Regions from separate parts of the Homo sapiens genome. Here region 2 is linked to region 1. The links come from fine-mapping of genetic effects on gene expression. A gene starts in region 1. The other region holds a variant in brackets. All regions are shown on one strand. Distances are between the middles of the regions.

Region 1 (8,312 bases):
GCTGCAGTGAGCTGTGATGGCACCACCACGCTCCAGCCTGAACAACCAGGCAATACCCTGTCTCAAAACAAAAAACGAGTGTCGGCCTGGCTTTGCTGCCTCTGGCCCTAGAGAGCACTCAGACACCCGGACTCAGGGAAAGGCAGACGCCCTCATGAGCGGCAGCTCCCCCACACCTGGCACCTTGGGAATCCTCAGCCCAGCACCCCTGCCTGCTCCACACGGCCACTCAGTAACTTCCTGAAGGGCAGTGAGAGGGAGGCTGCCGGCTCCGGGCAGTGGAGCTATGTGGGTGGCAGCTGGGTGCCCCGGCAGTCCTGGCCCCTCACCCAGCGTACTGCCTGATGCGCACGGGAGCTGGCTGCAGTCCCCGGTCTCTATTTGTGGAGCTCAGACCCGGGCTGCTGAAATGTGCAGCTGCCCGTTCCCTCCCCACCCACAGCGGAGGCCCCTGCTGAGGCCACAGCAGGAGGGGGAGCCACTCCAGCCCCGTGGGTGGGACCCTGGCTTCTAGGAACTCGTGTCCTCGAGGAAGGTGAACTCCGCTTTGTGTGCAGGGAAAGGTGGAGCCCGAGAGTGGCCGTGGAAGGGGCTTCGGGGCTGCGATCTGTGGACCCGGGCAGGCGCTGGCTGTGTGGGGAGGGGTGGAGGCGGCAGGACACAGGCAGCTTCCTGGGACGAAGAGCGCCCAGATCTGCAGCTGCCGGCCCCACGTGGCAACTGAGCTTTTTTTTGAGATGAGGTCTCGCTGTGTTGCCCAGGCTGGTCTTGACTTCCCAGGCTCAAGCGATCCTCCCGCCTCGGCCTCCCAAAAGTGCTGGGATTTACAGGCGTGTGCCACTGCACGTGGCCTGAGCTTTTGTTTTTTTGTTTTGTTTTGTTTTTTGAAATGGAGTCTCACTCTGTCACCAGGCTGGAGTGGCGCGATCTCAGCTCACTGTGACCTCCTCCTGCTGGATTCAAGCAATCCTCCTGCCTCAGCCTCCTCAGTAGCTGAGGCTACAGGTGCCCGCCACCACACCTGGCTAGTTTTTTGTATTTTTAGTAGAGATGGGGTTTCACCATGTTGGCCAGGCTGGTCTTGAACTCCTGACCTTGTGATCTGCCCGCCTCAGCCTCCCAAAGTGCTGGGATTACAGGCGTGAGCCACCGTGCCCAAACAACCTGAACTTTTGAAATGGGGCATGTGCGGCTGAGGAATTGAGTTTTACATTGTCTACAACTATAGCTGATTTCAGTGGACACAGATACATGGTGAACGGCCGCTGTATCGGATGGCACAGGCCGAGAGGGTTAGGGTCTCCTCCTCGGCCCTCTGGGCGGCCCCCCTGAAGCCTGGGCCTGGTGGTACCTGCATTCTGGCCACCTCCAGGTCCACCCTCCGGCTGCTGTCCTCTTGGTTCTTCTGCAGGGCGCCGCAGGCCACCTCCCGGCCCTGCTCCTCCTGCTGCAGCAAGTCGGTCAGCTTGGCCAGTCTAGAGAAGTCGGCTGTGGTCACACCAGCCCAGCTGGCCGGAGGGCCCAGCAGGGTGAGGCTGACCCACAGGCTGGCCAGGCAGGAGGTGTACGACCCCCGCCCCCTGCCCCACCAGAAAACAGAGGAATGGGAAACACAGCACCGGTGGCAGGGAAGGGCTGCTGCGAGTCTCTTCCCCACAGAGGGTCCGCAGCGGGCCCAGGCTTCCCAGCACGCTTGGCACCGAGGGCGGTGCCCCGCCGGGTTACTGGGGACACACGGCAGGGGGACCCGTGTCTTGGCTCAGCCAGGGACTCTCAAATGACCCCACGCAAGCTCCGGAGCCAGCCACGGGCGGTGGGCGCCCACCTGAGGCCGGCCTCTTGCTCGGCGCCCCTTCTCTCCGCCTCCTGTTGCACCTGCCTCCTCCTGAGCCGGGTCAAGGCTTCCCGGACCTCCACCAGCCTGGGACACAACAAGCCATTCCCGAGAGGCCCAGGCGGGCTGAGCAGCCTCGGCGGGCTGGGGGTCTGGCCAAGGGGCCCCTGTGGCCACCTCCCATGGCTTTCCTGGGCCTCTGAAGGCCGCCCAGGCACGTACAAACCCGGCCTTTTCTAGCTGGACCTGGATGTGTATCCCCCACTCCAGCGACACCCAGCGGGAGATGTGGACCCCCCACCACACCTGCCGCTGCTTTCTCGCCACCACCTCCCCGCCCTGGGCCTGTGCCCCTAGGTGTGTGGGGGGTACCTTTTGTCCAGGGCCTGCATCTGGTTCTGGAGACCAGAGAACTGCGAGGAGGAAGAGGAGGCTGTGGGCTGGACCTAGGCCCGGGTCTGGCACCTGCCCCTGGAGTCCACCCAGCTCCGGCACCACTGGCCCCTGGGAGCTCTGGGCCTGGGCAGCAGGGGTGAGCTGGGCTCCAGGCCCAGAAGCAGCTGCCCCCAACACCCAGGAAAGGGGCAGCTCGACCTGTGGGTGGGGGAGCCGCTCACCTCCGGCGCCTCCTTTTCGGGGGCCTGGGCTGCCGGCCGCGCCTCCTGCTGCAACTGCCTCAGCTCTGAGCCCTGCAGCTGCACGCGGGCCCGCACCTGGAGCAGCTCCCGCAGCAGGCTCCGCGTGGCGCGCTCACAGCGCTGCTTGTGCTCCCGCAGGCAGGCCACCTCGGCCTGCAGCTCCACCACCCTGGCCGGGGCGAGAGTGGGCGAGTCTGGCGGTGCCCGCCGTGGAGGCGGAGGCGGCGGCGACGTGGTCCTCCCCCGCCAGCACCCCCTGCAGGGCTCACCACTGCTCCAGCTGGTTCCAGTGCTTGGCGGTGTCCTGCTCGGGGACAGAGGCCGTGGATGTCGGATGGCTGGACTCATACCTCTCCGAGAGCTCCTCCAGGCTCAAGGGCTCGGGGCTGGCCAGGCCTCCTGCCAGGAGGAGCCCCAGGTCTTCCAGGGTGACGGCTCTCAGCTGGGAAGGGGCCGATGCCCCTGAGGGTCCACTGTCAGCCAACTCTACAAGGAGGCATCTTGGGAGCTTGCCCCTTGGGGCCCGGCCCCCACTGGAGCTTACGGGAACAAGGCCCCAAACCCCCGCAGGACCCTCGCCCACCACCCAGAGCTCAACGCGTCTCCTTGGGTCACACAGGATCCAGACGGGCTTGGCTCAGACAAGTCCAGGGCCCTGCCTGAAGACACACAGCACTGGGCGGCAGGAACAAGCGAGCTGGAGGGAGCCCGGGGTCAGAAGCAGAGCGGTCCCCACCCTCACACCTGTGGCAAGCCCCTCCCTGGGCCCCGCTCCTCCGCTCTGGTCACCTGACATGGCTGCTGGGCTGCACCGGCCACCCTGCCCTCGGCTGTAGCTTGGGCCTTGGGGCCTCTGAGGTTGCCCAGAGCTGGGCACAGGCCAGGGGGGTCAGGAGCCAGAGGAAGTCCCGTGAGAGCTCTGGGCCTTGAGGGACGAGCTGCTGCCCTCGTCTGGCTGCCTTCTCAGGGTCCCCAGGGAGGCAGGTGTGGGGCAGCGGGGCCGTTCCAGAACCTTCCTTCTCTCCCCAGAACCTCACGGCTTCACAGCCCAACTGCCAATGGAACTCTAGCCCTCAGCTCTCCCACTCCCGCAGGGCCCCCCAACTGCCTGCTTCTGGATGGATCTGAGGGGCCCCACTCCCGAGAGGGCGCAGACACGTGTCCTCTGGCAAAGGGGACTTCTTCAGCTGCCGAGGGAGGGGAAGGAGGCCCTGACGAGGCCTGGGCACGCCGGGAGGGACGCTGGGAGCAGGGAGGCCGAGAGCCCCAGGACACCCCGGACACAGCCAGGCCCACGTCCGAGCGGAGCCCGAGGCCTGGGCAGCGCCATCGGGGTGAGGGGCACAGCCGGGCTCCACGGGAACCCATCTTGCTCAGCAGCCCCATTAAAAGGCAAGAAGCAGCGATGTGAATCCTAACCGCTGATTTTATTTAACCGAATATATCCAAAATATGATCACTTCCAGGTCCTCAGTACACAACCACCACGAGGGAAACCCAGACCTAGGTTTCCGGCGCCGACTCTGAGGCCCGGGAGTTTTCTTCTTGCGTCACCCCAGCGTGGGCACCCCGGCCCGCCCCCCTCCACCTGGAGCGCCTCTGCCTTGCCCCCAGACCCACCAGCCAGGAGCCAGAGGAGGGAGGCTGAGGGGCGGGGACGAGGAAGAGGATGTGGCTGGTGCCCTGGGTGGCCGCAGCCGCTGTCTTTCACGCCTTTCTCACTCCACACGGTGCCCCGACCCCAGGGTCCCGAAAGTCCCAGGCTGTTGGACGTGGTCTGGGTGGGGTGGGAGGGACGACGCTGGCAAAGGCGGGCTGAGAGGATTTCTTTATTTCGCGTTCAGACCCAACACACTCGGACACCTTGGGGCCCTGTGAGGGCTAAGCAGGGTGGTGGCGTCAGCTCCCGGGGAGGCCCCACTCCCTGGGGAGGAAATACACGGCAGGGGGCCGCACCCAGCCCCCCACGGAGGGACCCGTGTTGCTCTAACAGGGACACTGAAGTTGCCTCTGCCGCCCCGTGAGGGGCCTGTGGCGGCCCCAGACCCAGCCCAGCCAGGCCAGAGGAGCCTCCCAGGGGCCCTCAGGTGGTGAGGTGGGGGCTTCCCGGCCCCGGTGCCCACCGGCCCTTCTAGCTGCCTGTGCTGGGCCAGGTGTCCTCTGAGGCCGGCAGGAGTCTGGCCCCCGCTGCACCTGCGCTTGGTGGCTGGCAGGGGCGGGGTAGGGAGGTCACCCTCGAGGCCGGGGTCCCCATGTGCTAGGGGAAGACCTGCCTTCCCAGCCAGTGTCCACAGGGCAGCAATTCCACGCTCTGAGGCTCAGGGACCAAGGCAGGGCTGGGTGTGGGGCCCAGACTCCAAGCTCTGGGGGTTGGGGGACCAAGGCAGGGCTGGGCATGGGGCTCAGGGCCTTGGAGGTTTTTCTCAGCTCTCAACATCACAGCACAGGGCCCGTGAGTCACCCCAGTCCTCTGGGCCTGTGTACCCAAGCCGGATGCAGGCCGGGGAGTGCACGTGGGGCTCCTCTGTGGCGCCAGTGTGAAGCTGCTCTCCGGGGCGGTCGCAGCCTCCAAACCCTGGTGCTACGAGTCCGTGCCTCAGGCCCAGGGACCACAGGCCGTCTGCTCATGGCTGAAAATGAGGCCAAGCAGCTCCCAAGTCTCGAAGACTCCACTGGTGTGGAGGCAGAGGGGCCCTTCCAGGGCAGGGCAGCCCTCGGGGCAGCAGCAGGGGCAAGGGCTCTGTCTCACGCACACGGGCACAGGCACGCAGGTGCCGGCCCTGCCGCTGGCTCCCAAGAGGCCGATAGCCCGGTAGGGAGGTCACACACACACAGCTGATCCCTGGAGGTAAAGAAACCTAGACGAGGAGAGTGGAGGCTGGGCCTGCGCAAGGAGGCGCCAAGGGGGGAGACCACTGCCCACAACAGGGTCAGTCCCGCGAGAGGGTCAGTTCCGCGCCTGCCGCCTGCCCGCCCAGCTGCAGGGTGCTCGCCATTGCCACTGCTGGGGAGCATGGTTTGGGCCGAGAAACCAGTGACTCCGGGAGGAAATGCAGAAGGGCCGGGGTGCCAGCGCCAGTGCCCATTATGGGCAGGGCTGGGCCTCACGTCTGGGCCAGCGAGAGCTCCTCCAAGCCTCTCTTTCCCAGGCGGTACCTGGCGAGGTCCTTCCTGGTCACCAACCCGACAACCTGCAGGACAAGTCCAGGCCACAGTGACACACGGGTCGGCTCCCGCCTGCCTGTGGAGCTCCCTGCCTTGTGTGTGGCTGGGGCAGCACAGGCAGGGGGCCCTGGGGGCTTCAGCACAGCCCCCGAGCTGAGCACGGGGCTGGGGAGGGGTGCAGCCATGGGGCATGGGCCGACTCGGTGCTGGGTCCTGTGCTTCCGTGTCCCCTGCCGGGAGCTGAGAGTAAGCACGGGCAGGAGGCAGAGGGGAGCCCTGCACGGCATGCCTGCACCCCCACCGCCCCCGCTCACCTGATTGCGGTTGTCCACCACCACCAGGTGCCGCAGGCCCAGGGCCCGGAACAGCTTGAACACCCGTGGGAGCGACGCCTCCTGCAGCAGGGGCACAGCTGTCAGTGCCCGCCCACACAGCAGAGGCAGGCGGGACCCTCACCCAAGCTGGCTCCCTGCACCCCCCACCACGGCGTCCAGGCACGTCCTGAGCCCCCACGCCCGTCTGGCCAGCCCCCTCAGCCCCTTGACTTCAGCTCTAAAGCCTGCCAGGCCCTTCACAGGAGACAGAGTCACCGAGTCCTCTCCGCTGTGGCCCCCCCCGGCTGCCCCTCCCCGAGGCTCTGGACCCCACCCCCTGCTGTTCAGTCCCAGGCCCCACGCCCATGCCCATGCCCTGCACATGCCTGGGGCACCGTGTAGGGGGAGGGGTTCATGAACTCGGAGAGGTCCATGGTGCACTCCCGCTCGTCCTGGGACACGTGGATGGACTGGATGGGTGGGAAGCGCGGGTAGGCGTCTCGGAAGTCCTTCAGCCTCAGGCGCCGCTGTACCAGGCCCAGGTTGGACCGCTCCACAAACACCTGCGGGCGGCAGAGCCCTGTGTCAGGCACCCAGGCAGCACCCCCGGGGCCCCCACCCGCCCAATGGCCCGGAGCCTGGCACGCACCTTGTGCTTTAGGAGAACGATGAGCTGGGAGCGCAGGATCAGGCCCTGGAGCCGGGCAGGCTGCAAGACAGGCCCGCGGTCAGGGCCACGGGCCCGAGGGTGGGAGGCTGCGCTGGAATGCTGTGTCGGGCCCCGCTCTGACCCTGTTCCGGCCAGATTTCCCATCTGGGCATGGGCCCCGTGTCGGTGGCTACCTGCTCACACCAGCCTCGCCATGGCATCCCACACGCACAATGCCACGGGACCCAAGGATCGGCGACAGGGTAGCGGGGCCTGACCGCGCACAGCAGAGAGCCAAGGGCCCAGGGATGGTGGCTTTGCTGCAGGGCAGATGCAGCCCCACTGGGTCCCAATAAAAACCAACCTCCAAACACCCAGTGTCCACGTCTAAAAGACACACAGCAGTGGCCGAGCTGTGTGTCCTGTCAGGGCCTCCTGACAAAGTCACGGCCCCCAGTGCCACGGCTCTCAGCCCAGCCTGGGTGCCAACCCCAAGACCCTGCCAGGCCGCAGCCCCCCCCACCAGCCTCAGCGTCCACACAGCCCTCCATGGCTGCACACTCAGCTTCCGGCACTCCTGGAACTGCCAGTGCACCCAAACGTGCAGCTTCCCCATCCTGCAAACCTTGCCGTGTGCTTCCCACCAATGGACTCGACAGAGGTCACATAGGCAGGACCCTGTCTATGGGGTGCCCGGTACCTGGGTGTCATCGGCATGCTCCACCACGGGGAAGCCGTTGTGATTGGACGCCGTGTCGCTCAGCACGTCCACAATGACGCCGACCTTCTCACGCCGCCTCAGGCAGGTCACTGGTGTGCTCATCACCTCCCTGCCGGAGGAGCCCGGCCACACATGCCCGTCACACGCCACCAACTCCCACAGTTACCTCTGCGGGCTGGTGAGGTGTGAAGCCGCTGGACAGGAAACGCGGGGCTGCCTGGAGCCCGCAAGCCGTGCACCCTGCCCCTGTGCAACAAGAGGCCGCTGGACACCCTCCCCACCCACAGGTGTCCTGGGCGCTGTACCTGGCAGTGAGTGAGTGTGAGGTGACCGGGGCCTCCCAGTGCAGGAAGGGCACACTCTGCAGCTGAATGTGCATGTCGTACAGGCCCTGCGGGCGGGGCGGGAACACAGGGCTTGAGGAGTCCACACCCACCCCTGGAGCCCCGAGCCTACCCCTGGGAGCCCAGAGGCCGCCCCCAGAAACCCTGAGCCTACCCCCCGGGACCGGCTGTTTGGAGGCTCACAGGGGCCCCTCCCCTATGGCAGCACCCACGCTCTCAGGGTGAGGCTTCGAGGCCCTGGCGCACCTCAATGAAGACGTCGCCCACGATCTTGGCGGTCATGAGCACCAGCATGATGGGGAAGCCGTAGGTCACGTTGCTGGTGGCCTCCATCATGATGACGGTCAGGCTCAGTGTCATCCGCACAATCCCGCCTGCGGGAGCCATCATGAACCCCAGCACGTCCACCCTCCTGGCTCAGGGTCACGTGGCCACTGCCTTCTCTGCAGCACCCATCCCATCCACCTGCTCCCAGACCCTAGCCCCGCAAGGACAGCCATGGCCCCCTCCAGACCCCGTGGAGCTCCCCACCCATCGGGCAAGAGCTGGGACATACCCAGCTGGGCAGCAGCTCCCATCAGGGCGTATTTGCCGGGGTCCGCCCAGATCTGTGGGAGGTGACACGGAGGAGGTGTCAGTGTGGTGGC
Region 2 (8,312 bases), 50 kb before region 1:
AAACTCCGTCTCAAAAAATAGAATAAAAAATTTAAAAAAGGATATCGCTTGAACCCAGGAGGTGGAGGCTGCAGTGAGCCAAGGTCATACCACCGCACTGCAGGCTGGGTGATAGAGTGAGACTCTGTCTCCAAAAAAAAATACACACACACACACACACACACACACACACACACAATATATATGTACCTATTCAGCAGTACTCTTGGTCCCTTAAAGATACACACACACACACACACACACACACACACACACACACACACACATAAGCTCTGCTCAGAATTTAGACGAATGCTATTTTTGGTTTTGTTTTGTTTTGAGACAGGATCTCGCTCTGTCTCCCAGGCTGGAGTGCAGTGGCATGACCTCCCTGGCTAAAGCAATCCTCCTGTCTCAGCCTCCCAAGAAGCTGTGAGCACAGGCATTTGCCAGTGGACCCAGTTAATTTTTCAAAGCTTTCTGTAGAGACAGGGTCTTGTTATGTTGCCTAGGCGGGTCTCGAACTCCTGACCTCGAGCGATTGTCCCACCTCAGCCTCCCAAAGTGCCTGGTTTACAGGCGTGAGCCACTGCAACTGGCCAAAGATGCCAAATCTCGAAGGTCTCATGAAACAGAAGAGATGCCTGAACCTGCTGGCTCCCTGTCGGTTCTCCTGAGTTCCATTTCTTTTCTTTTCATTTTTTTTCTGAGACAAAGTCTCACTCTGTCATCCAGGCTGGAGTGCAGTGGCGCGATCTCAGCTCACTGCAAGCTCCACCTCCCGGGTTCAAGCAATTCTCCTGCCTCAGCCTCTGGAGTAGCTGGGATTACAGGCGCACGCCACCACGCCCGGCTAATTTGTGTATTTTTAGTAGAGATGGGGTTTCACCATGTTCATCAGGCCGGTCTCGAACTCCTGACCTCAGGTGATCCACCCGCCTTGGCCTCCCAAAGTGCTGGGATTACAGGCGTGAGCCACCGCGCCCGGCCCTGAGTTCCATTTCTTACATTTGAACGTGGCTCTCTGACCTTGGGTTGGTCCGTGTGAAGGCAGGGTGCCAGCTCTGCACTCCCTGAACCAACCATGGCATCAAACCCCAAACCGAGCCATTCACCTAAGGCAGAGGCTCAGGTGAAACTGTTAAGAAATATATGAAGGGAGTCAGAGTGTGCCACCCCAAAACATGCCACTCTTTGACAAAAAGATTATTTTGAGTTGAAGGCAGCTGAGAAACAGTAGATGCAGGAGCAGCTCTCTGCTTCCTTCCTGCCTCGAAGCCGGGCGTGAATTCCCTCTGTGAAGGTGTCCTCTCCCCTCTCCACACCAGGAGGAGAGACTGCAGATTGAGGCTGCATAACCAACCTCACTGAAGTTGCTCTTACCTTCCGCCAGTCTCCCCCATAGCCTTACCTTCCTAGAAGCCCAACCCCCTCTTCCCCCCTCTTTTTTTGTTTGAGATGGGGTCTTATTCTGTCACCCAGACTGAAGTGAAATGACGGGACCTCACCTCACCACAACCTCCGTCTCCTGGGTTCAAGTGATTCTCCCGCCTCAGCCTCCTGAGTAGCTGGGATTACAGGCACCCACCACCACACCTGGTTAATTTTTGTATTTTTAGTAGAGATGGAGTTTCACCATGTTGGCCAGGCTGGTCTTGAACTCCTGACCTCAGGTGATCCACCCGCCTCAGCCTCCCAAAGTGCTGGGATGACAGGCGTGAGCCACTGCCCCCAGCCTAGTGGCAAGGATTTTTCTAGACTCTTCTAGAAGAGCCACGAACTCCACAGACTGCCCACGACCACATTGCTGAAAACTCATATCCATCCACATCCCTAAGAGTTCAATTAAACCAAAGGACACTGGGCATTGTCCTGGGAAGGCCGTTCACTTACATTTCCCGGCTGGCCGCTGCCCGTGGAGGAAGGACTCGTGAGGTGGAGGTCGTGACAGCCCCATTCATTCACCATCCCCAGGCTCTCTGCAAGGACAGGGGAGCAGCAGACTCTGAGGGCCGCTGGTGGGCGACAGTGACACGCAGAAGTCTCCGCACCACACGTCAGGGCCGAGTGTGCGCAGCCTCGTCACAATCATCCCTCAGGGGTGCGGCAGAGGACGGCTGGGCAGTGGTGGGGACACTCAGGGCAACAGGACCCTCTGGTCTTAGACCAGTTTTTCATGTTTTTAACACTAAAAGCAATGTTTAAAACGTGAACAAGAATAGCTGCCCTCCCCACTAAAATAAAAAACAAAGGAAAATTTGAGCTTGTGACCACACACACAAAACCTGGAACCCAAATCCTAGGGCTGGGAGGAGGAGGCCGTGTGGGTTCCCACTGAACCCAAACCCCAGGGCTGCGAGGAGGAAACCCACTGCAGCGTGGAGGAGGCCGCATGGGTTCCCACTGAGTCCAAACCCCAGGGCTGCCAGGAAACCCACTGCAGCGTGGAGGAGGCCGCGTGGGTTCCCACTGAACCCAAACCCCAGGGCTGCCAGAAGGAAACCCACTGCAGCGTGGAGGAGGCCGCGTGGGTTCCCACTGGGGCTTGTTTCTGCTGCTGGGAACTTATTAGGGACCACATAATCGCCAAAGCTAAGCCCTCATCCCCTGGACAGCAAACGGGCTCTGGAAAGCACAGGGTCACCCTGAGCAACCCTGCTTGAGGGTCTCTGCTGTCTCCCCGAGCTGGGGCGGACAGACCCCCTCTCTCCACAAGGGAGGTGGTGCTCCTGGGTGGGTGCCTGGCAAGATGGCAGTCTCGGAGCAAGGCCCAGGCAGTGGGTGGCAGAAGGACCCAGCTTGGATGCCCAGGAGGCAGGTGGAGGTGCCAGCCAGCCCACACCAGGACTCAGCCTCCAGGCTCAGGGCCCCAGCGTGCCTGAAGACAGGGTCCCTGCAGATTCCACCAGGCCTGGCCCACGCCGGCGTGGAGGGAGCCCAGCCTCACATGGCACAAACACCCCAGGGAGCCTCCACGGGCATGTCAGGGACCCCCAGCCCCCAACCACGGTGCTGAGCTCCTGCCCGCCTTCCAGGTCCTCGTGGGCAGCTCCGGGTCATCGGTAACTCCAGTGAGGGCCTGCAGAGCCGCGGAACCTGCTAAGGTGAACCTGCCACAGGGACGGTTACTCACTCTCAACGTGTGCAAAGGCACAGAAGGGGCCGCGCGGGCAGTACCCGGTTTGGCGCATGTCGTTGCATTTTGTAGATTTGTAGATCTGGGGAAAAAAGTGAAATAAAGAGGTTGGATTGGAAATGGGATTCTGTGGAAAGACCACAGCTGGCATCATCCCAAGGGAGAGGATTAAGCTCCAAATCGTAACAAGACACCCCTGAAAAGGGGGGCGTGGGCCCTGCCCTCCTCCACGTGTGCCCTTGGTCCCCACATCCCTCCTCTCTGCAGAGCCGACCCACAGGGAACACGCACACATGTGGGGCCATTCCCGCAGCATCTGCCCTCCCATCACAGGCAAAGTCATTTCCCCGCTTGATATTTTCTGAAAGATGCACCAAATTCAGAGTCTGGTATGCAGCAGGTGCCTAATAAGTGCCTATTAAAAGGAACACGTGTGTCTGTTCCCTGATCAGACCCACTGACCCTTCACCTAGGGTGACAGCCCCTCTCATGAGGTCAACAACACTTAAGACCCGGCAAGGGACAGACCAGCCTGGAAGCCCCCAGTCGGCCTTGGGAGGCCTGGCCCAGCCCCTCCTGCTCCGTAGCTCTCCGTAAAGGACACGGCACCTGGCACGCCAGGCCTCCAGTGCCCACACCTGCCTGGGTCCCAGCAGGAAGCCTCTCTCCTGACCTCCGGCCTGGCCCCACCCCCCCATGGCCCTTCCACCACGTCGGGCACCCGGTGGGGTCCCGTTTGCTTGTTCATTTTGTTTGTTTTTTGAGAGAGAGTCTCGCTCTGTCACCCAGGCTGGAGTGCAGTCGCAAGATCTCGGCTCACTGCAACGTCCACCTCCCGAGTTCAAGTGATTCTCTTGCCTCAGCCTCCCAAGTAGCTGGGATTACAAGCATGTGCCACCACACCTGGCTAATTTTTGTAGTTTTAGTAGAGATGGGGTTTCGCCATGTTGGCCAGGCTGGTCTCAAACTCCTGACCTCGGCCCCACAAAGTGCCGGGATTACAGGCGTGAACCACCGTGCCCGGTCTGTTC[AT/A]TTTTTTTTTTTTTTTTTTTGAGCCAGAGTCTGGCTCTGTCGCCCAGGCTGGAGTACAATGGTGCCATCTTGGCCCACTGCAACCTCTGCCTCCTGGATTCAAGCAATTCTCCTGCCTCAGCCTCCTGAGTAGCTGTGACTACAGCCATGAGCCACCAAACCTGGCTAATTTTTGTATTTTTAGTAGAGACGGGTTCACCATGTTGGCCAGGCTGGTCTCGAACTCCTGACCTCAGGTGATCTGCCTGCCTCGGCCTCCCAAAGTGCTGGGATTACAGGCGTGAGCCACTGTGCCTGGCCTGTTTGTTTTTAATACAAATCTGAGTATGGTCCCTTGGCAACTACACGGCTGGGTGTGAACACAGCCTCCCTGTACCGTCCATACCCTGCACCTTCTAGTGGAGGCACAGGCCTGGCTCCATCTCAGGCTGCCCCTTCCGCCCCAGGAACCTCCTGCCTCGGAAGAGTCCTTGTTTACCTGGGGCGGGGCCCAGGCGGGAGGGTTTATCTCCCTCAGGATTTATGGTGCGGCTGTGGCCCACGTGGTGCCAGCTCCACTCAGCTGGGTACCAGAGACTGGGGTCTGCAACCAGGCCTGCGTGACTGAACACAGAAAACGCCCCGGACACCGGACTCCCGACAGGCCCCTGGTGACACCATTGAGTGTGTGGTCACCGACACCCAGAAAGCATGATGCGCGTCTGTGACAACATGAGTCAAGAAACGACGGGAAGCAGCGCCTGGTCCTTCCCAGCCCCTGCACGCCTCCCCCTTGGCTGAGGATTTTACTTTTTTTAGATAGAGTCTTGCTCTATCCCCCAGGCTGGAGTGCAGTGGCGCACTCTTGGCTCACTGCAACCTCAGCCTCCCAGGTTCAAGTGATCCTCGCGCCTCAGCCTCCAAGTAGCTGAGACTATAGGCGCGCACCACTACACCTGGCTAATTTTTGTATTTTTAGTAGAGACAGGGTTTCACCATGTTGACCAGGCTGGTTTCGAACCCCTGACCTCAAGTGATGTGCCCACCTCAGCCTTCCAAAGTGCTGGGATTACAGTGTGAGCCACCGTGCCTGGCCTGAACATGTGTTTTGTTTTGTTTTTTTTCCTTGAGATGGAGTCTCGCTCTGTCCTCCAAGCTGGAGTGCAGTGGCGTGATCTCGGCTCACTCTAAGCTCTGCCTCCCGGGTTCAAGCGATCCTCACGTCTCAGCCTCCCAAGTTCAAGTGCTCCTCGCGTCTCAGCCTCCCGAGTAGCTAGGACTACAGGCGCGCACCACCACACCCAGCTAATTTTGGTATTTTTAGTACAGACATGTTGACCAGGCTGGTTTCGAACCCCTGACCTCAAGTGATTTGCCCGCCTCTGCCTCCCAAAGTGCTGAGATTACAGTGTGAGCCACCGTGCCTGGCCTGAATATATATATTTTTTTCTTTTTCTTTTTTTTCCTGAGGCAGAGTCTTGCTCTGTTGCCCAGGCCAGAGTGCAGTGGCACGATCTCAGCTCACTGCAAGCTCCGCCTCCTGGGTTCACGCCATTCTCCTGCCTCAGCCTCCTGAGTAGCTGGGACTACAGACGCCCGCCACCACGCCTGGCTGATTTTTTGCATTTTTAGTAGAAACGGGGTTTTGCCAGGATGGTCTTGATCTCTTGATCTCGTTATCCAGCTGCCTCAGCCTCCCAAAGTGCTGGGATTACAGGCGTGAGCTACTGCACCCAGACCTGAATATGTATGTTTTTAATTGACATTTTCTCTCTGCTTTTTTCCCACATGACTCTTTCTTCTGTTACAGGCCAAGTGGAGAGACTCGCTGGCTGAGGGCAGCCCGAAGGCCAGCAAGCAAGACAAGCAAGCAGGTACAGCCCTCATGCCTCCACCCCCAGGCTTCCCGACCTGTGCCAGCCCTCGGCCAAAGTTAATCACTGTTCCTTCTGTGTGATAACCACGCTGTGAACCCCACAGCTTCTCTGGGACCTTCCAGCGACCCCTACGCCTGGGGGGTTGGAGGGACGTACCTCGGGATGGAACTGCTGCTCCGTGCGGGAGTGGCAATACTGGCAGCCGTCGCCGCCATCGCAGCGTGAGGGTTCCCCCCACTCATCCCCGTGCTTCACACTGGGGCAGGGCGTGGACCTGGGGATGAGGAGGTGTCAGGGGGACACAGAGGACTTGGCTCCCCGCCCCCCACCCCCGTGCTTCACGCTGGGGCAGGGCGTGGACCTGGGGATGAGGAGGTGTCAGGAGGACACAGAGGACTTGGCTCCCTGCCCCCCACCCCCGTGCTTCACGCTGGGGCAGGGCGTGGACCTGGGGATGAGGAGGTGTCAGGAGGACACAGAGGACTTGGCTCCCCCACCCCGACCCCCGTGCTTCACGCTGGGGCAGGGCATGGACCTGGGGATGAGGAGGTGTCAGGGGGACACAGAGGACTTGGCTCCCCCACCCCGACCCCCGTGCTTCACGCTGGGGCAGGGCGTGGACCTGGGGATGAGGAGGTGTCAGGGGGACACAGAGGACTTGGCTCCCCCACCCCGACCCCCGTGCTTCACGCTGGGGCAGGGCATGGACCTGGGGATGAGGAGGTGTCAGGGGGACACAGAGGACTTGGCTCCCCCACCCCGACCCCCGTGCTTCACGCTGGGGCAGGGCGTGGACCTGGGGATGAGGAGGTGTCAGGGGGACACAGGAAAACATGGTTCCTCGTGTGCCCAGGGGTGTCTGCCTCCCACCAGGAGGGGCCTCGGGCATGGGGCCCTGGAGTGACAGGCAACGCAGCTCTGCGCTCACGGACACGCAGGCCCGGCCAGTGCCAGGATGGGGTCAGGAGCCCCGGGGCTGTTCTTCACAGAATTTAACTTGAGTCTCAGTCAGAGCCACCCTCACGGACGTGGAGAACGCAGGGGAGAAGCAGCCGAACCTCCTGGGGACAGTGAGGCCGGGCGCCCAGACAGCACGGGGCTGTCTCCTCGCCAACTTTCTATAAAATGGAAGCGAGAGTTTTGATCCCACAATTTAAAACTCCGCACCAATTTCAAATTACCTATGTTCCTACTGCAGTGAGCTGAGACTGCACCACCGCACTCCAGCCTGGGCCACAGAGTGAGACTCTGTCTCATAAAAAAACAAAATCCTCTACTCTTCGTGGAATCTCTAGCTGCTTTATTGTAACTGATTTGTATTTATGGGACACATTAAGTGCCTGTTGAAAAAATAATTTTTATTTTCTTTCCATGACGGGCGATGACAAAATCTCAGACACTAATTTGTGGTTTGTTCTACAGCCGTTCAGGTCCTTTACTCGGAAGCTGCTCAGAGGGAGACTGAACGTGGCATAACAACAAGGAGTGGGGCGTCCTTCCCAAAGGAAGCACAGGTGCTCTCCGGGGCATGCGAGGCAGCACCAGGTCATTCAAAAGAGGCGAGGGTGGCTCTCTGCTCAAAGGAAGAGCTGGACACAGACAGGGCCTCAGGGAGGCCAAGGCCATGGCCCAGGCATCCAGACACCCTGTGGGGTCTGCACCCCCCCACCCCCCTCTCAGGTGCAAACTGCAGACAGGAGGCAAGCCAGGCCAGGCACAACCAGAAGGCCGGGCTGGAGCAAGGAGGAGAAAGGGGCTTCAGAGGCAAGCAGGCTGCGAGGTGCCAAACCCACAAGCCAGACCCAGGGGACAGCTGGGGCTCAGGCGGTGGAGGAAGGTCCTGTGTGCACCCTGGGCAGGGCGACCCTTGGGTTGTTGGCCCTGGGACTCAGCCTAAGGACCCGGCGTCCCAGCTGCCAGCTGTGAAGACAAGATTGAGCCCAGGTGACGACAGTGCCTGAGCCCCTGGCAGCTTGGGTGAGGAGACAGCATGCAGCCCACAGGCTGGAGAGCGTGGCTGCAACCAGAGGCACGGGTGGGGCACACGGGGGTCCCAGCTGGGCTTGGGGTCCCTCCTGCAGTGCTCCGTCCCCTTGCCTGGCAGAGGGGCCCCGGTAGGGGACTGCATGGGAGACACTGAGCGTAGGTGGGGAGGCCCATCCCCAGGACAGACGCGTGGGCCTCCATGGCACCTCCCACAGCCACTGTGCTTGGAGATGCCCTCCCCTCCCGGGGATGATGGTGCCACAAGGGCAGCCCTCCCATTAGAACCCCGGGGTGGGCAACGCGAGCCACGGGCCGGGAAGGAC

Which allele goes with the higher level. Alleles are on the strand shown, and positions count from the first base shown. SD is a standard deviation of normalised expression in the study named.
With allele AT in place of A in region 2, the expression in macrophages of the gene that starts at base 3,502 in region 1 is lower (large effect, 1.1 SD a copy in Alasoo 2018).

What was found. PIP is the estimated chance that this variant, and not a neighbour inherited with it, causes the effect.
Region 2: its variant is the best candidate, but not a certain one, in a credible set for the expression of CCDC154 in macrophages (Alasoo 2018, PIP 0.70).

Annotation. Positions count from the first base shown.
Region 1 is chr16:1,441,055-1,449,366 of GRCh38, forward strand. CCDC154 (coiled-coil domain containing 154) reads right to left here and starts at 3,502. Exons shown (of 17, transcript NM_001143980.3): 1 at 3,262-3,502; 2 at 2,742-2,958; 3 at 2,452-2,641; 4 at 2,207-2,247; 5 at 1,826-1,921; 6 at 1,352-1,475. The coding sequence starts at 3,268. CLCN7 (chloride voltage-gated channel 7) reads right to left here. Exons shown (of 25, transcript NM_001287.6): 18 at 8,222-8,273; 19 at 7,912-8,039; 20 at 7,627-7,712; 21 at 7,301-7,430; 22 at 6,601-6,660; 23 at 6,338-6,514; 24 at 5,952-6,032; 25 at 3,881-5,663. The coding sequence ends at 5,577.
Region 2 is chr16:1,391,019-1,399,330 of GRCh38, forward strand. UNKL (unk like zinc finger) reads right to left here. Exons shown (of 15, transcript NM_001372107.1): 6 at 6,160-6,277; 7 at 3,113-3,197; 8 at 1,873-1,958. Among named protein-coding and RNA genes, the nearest start is that of UNKL-AS1, 13 kb to the right of the region's middle. The variant AT/A (reference allele first, on the strand shown) is at 4,147.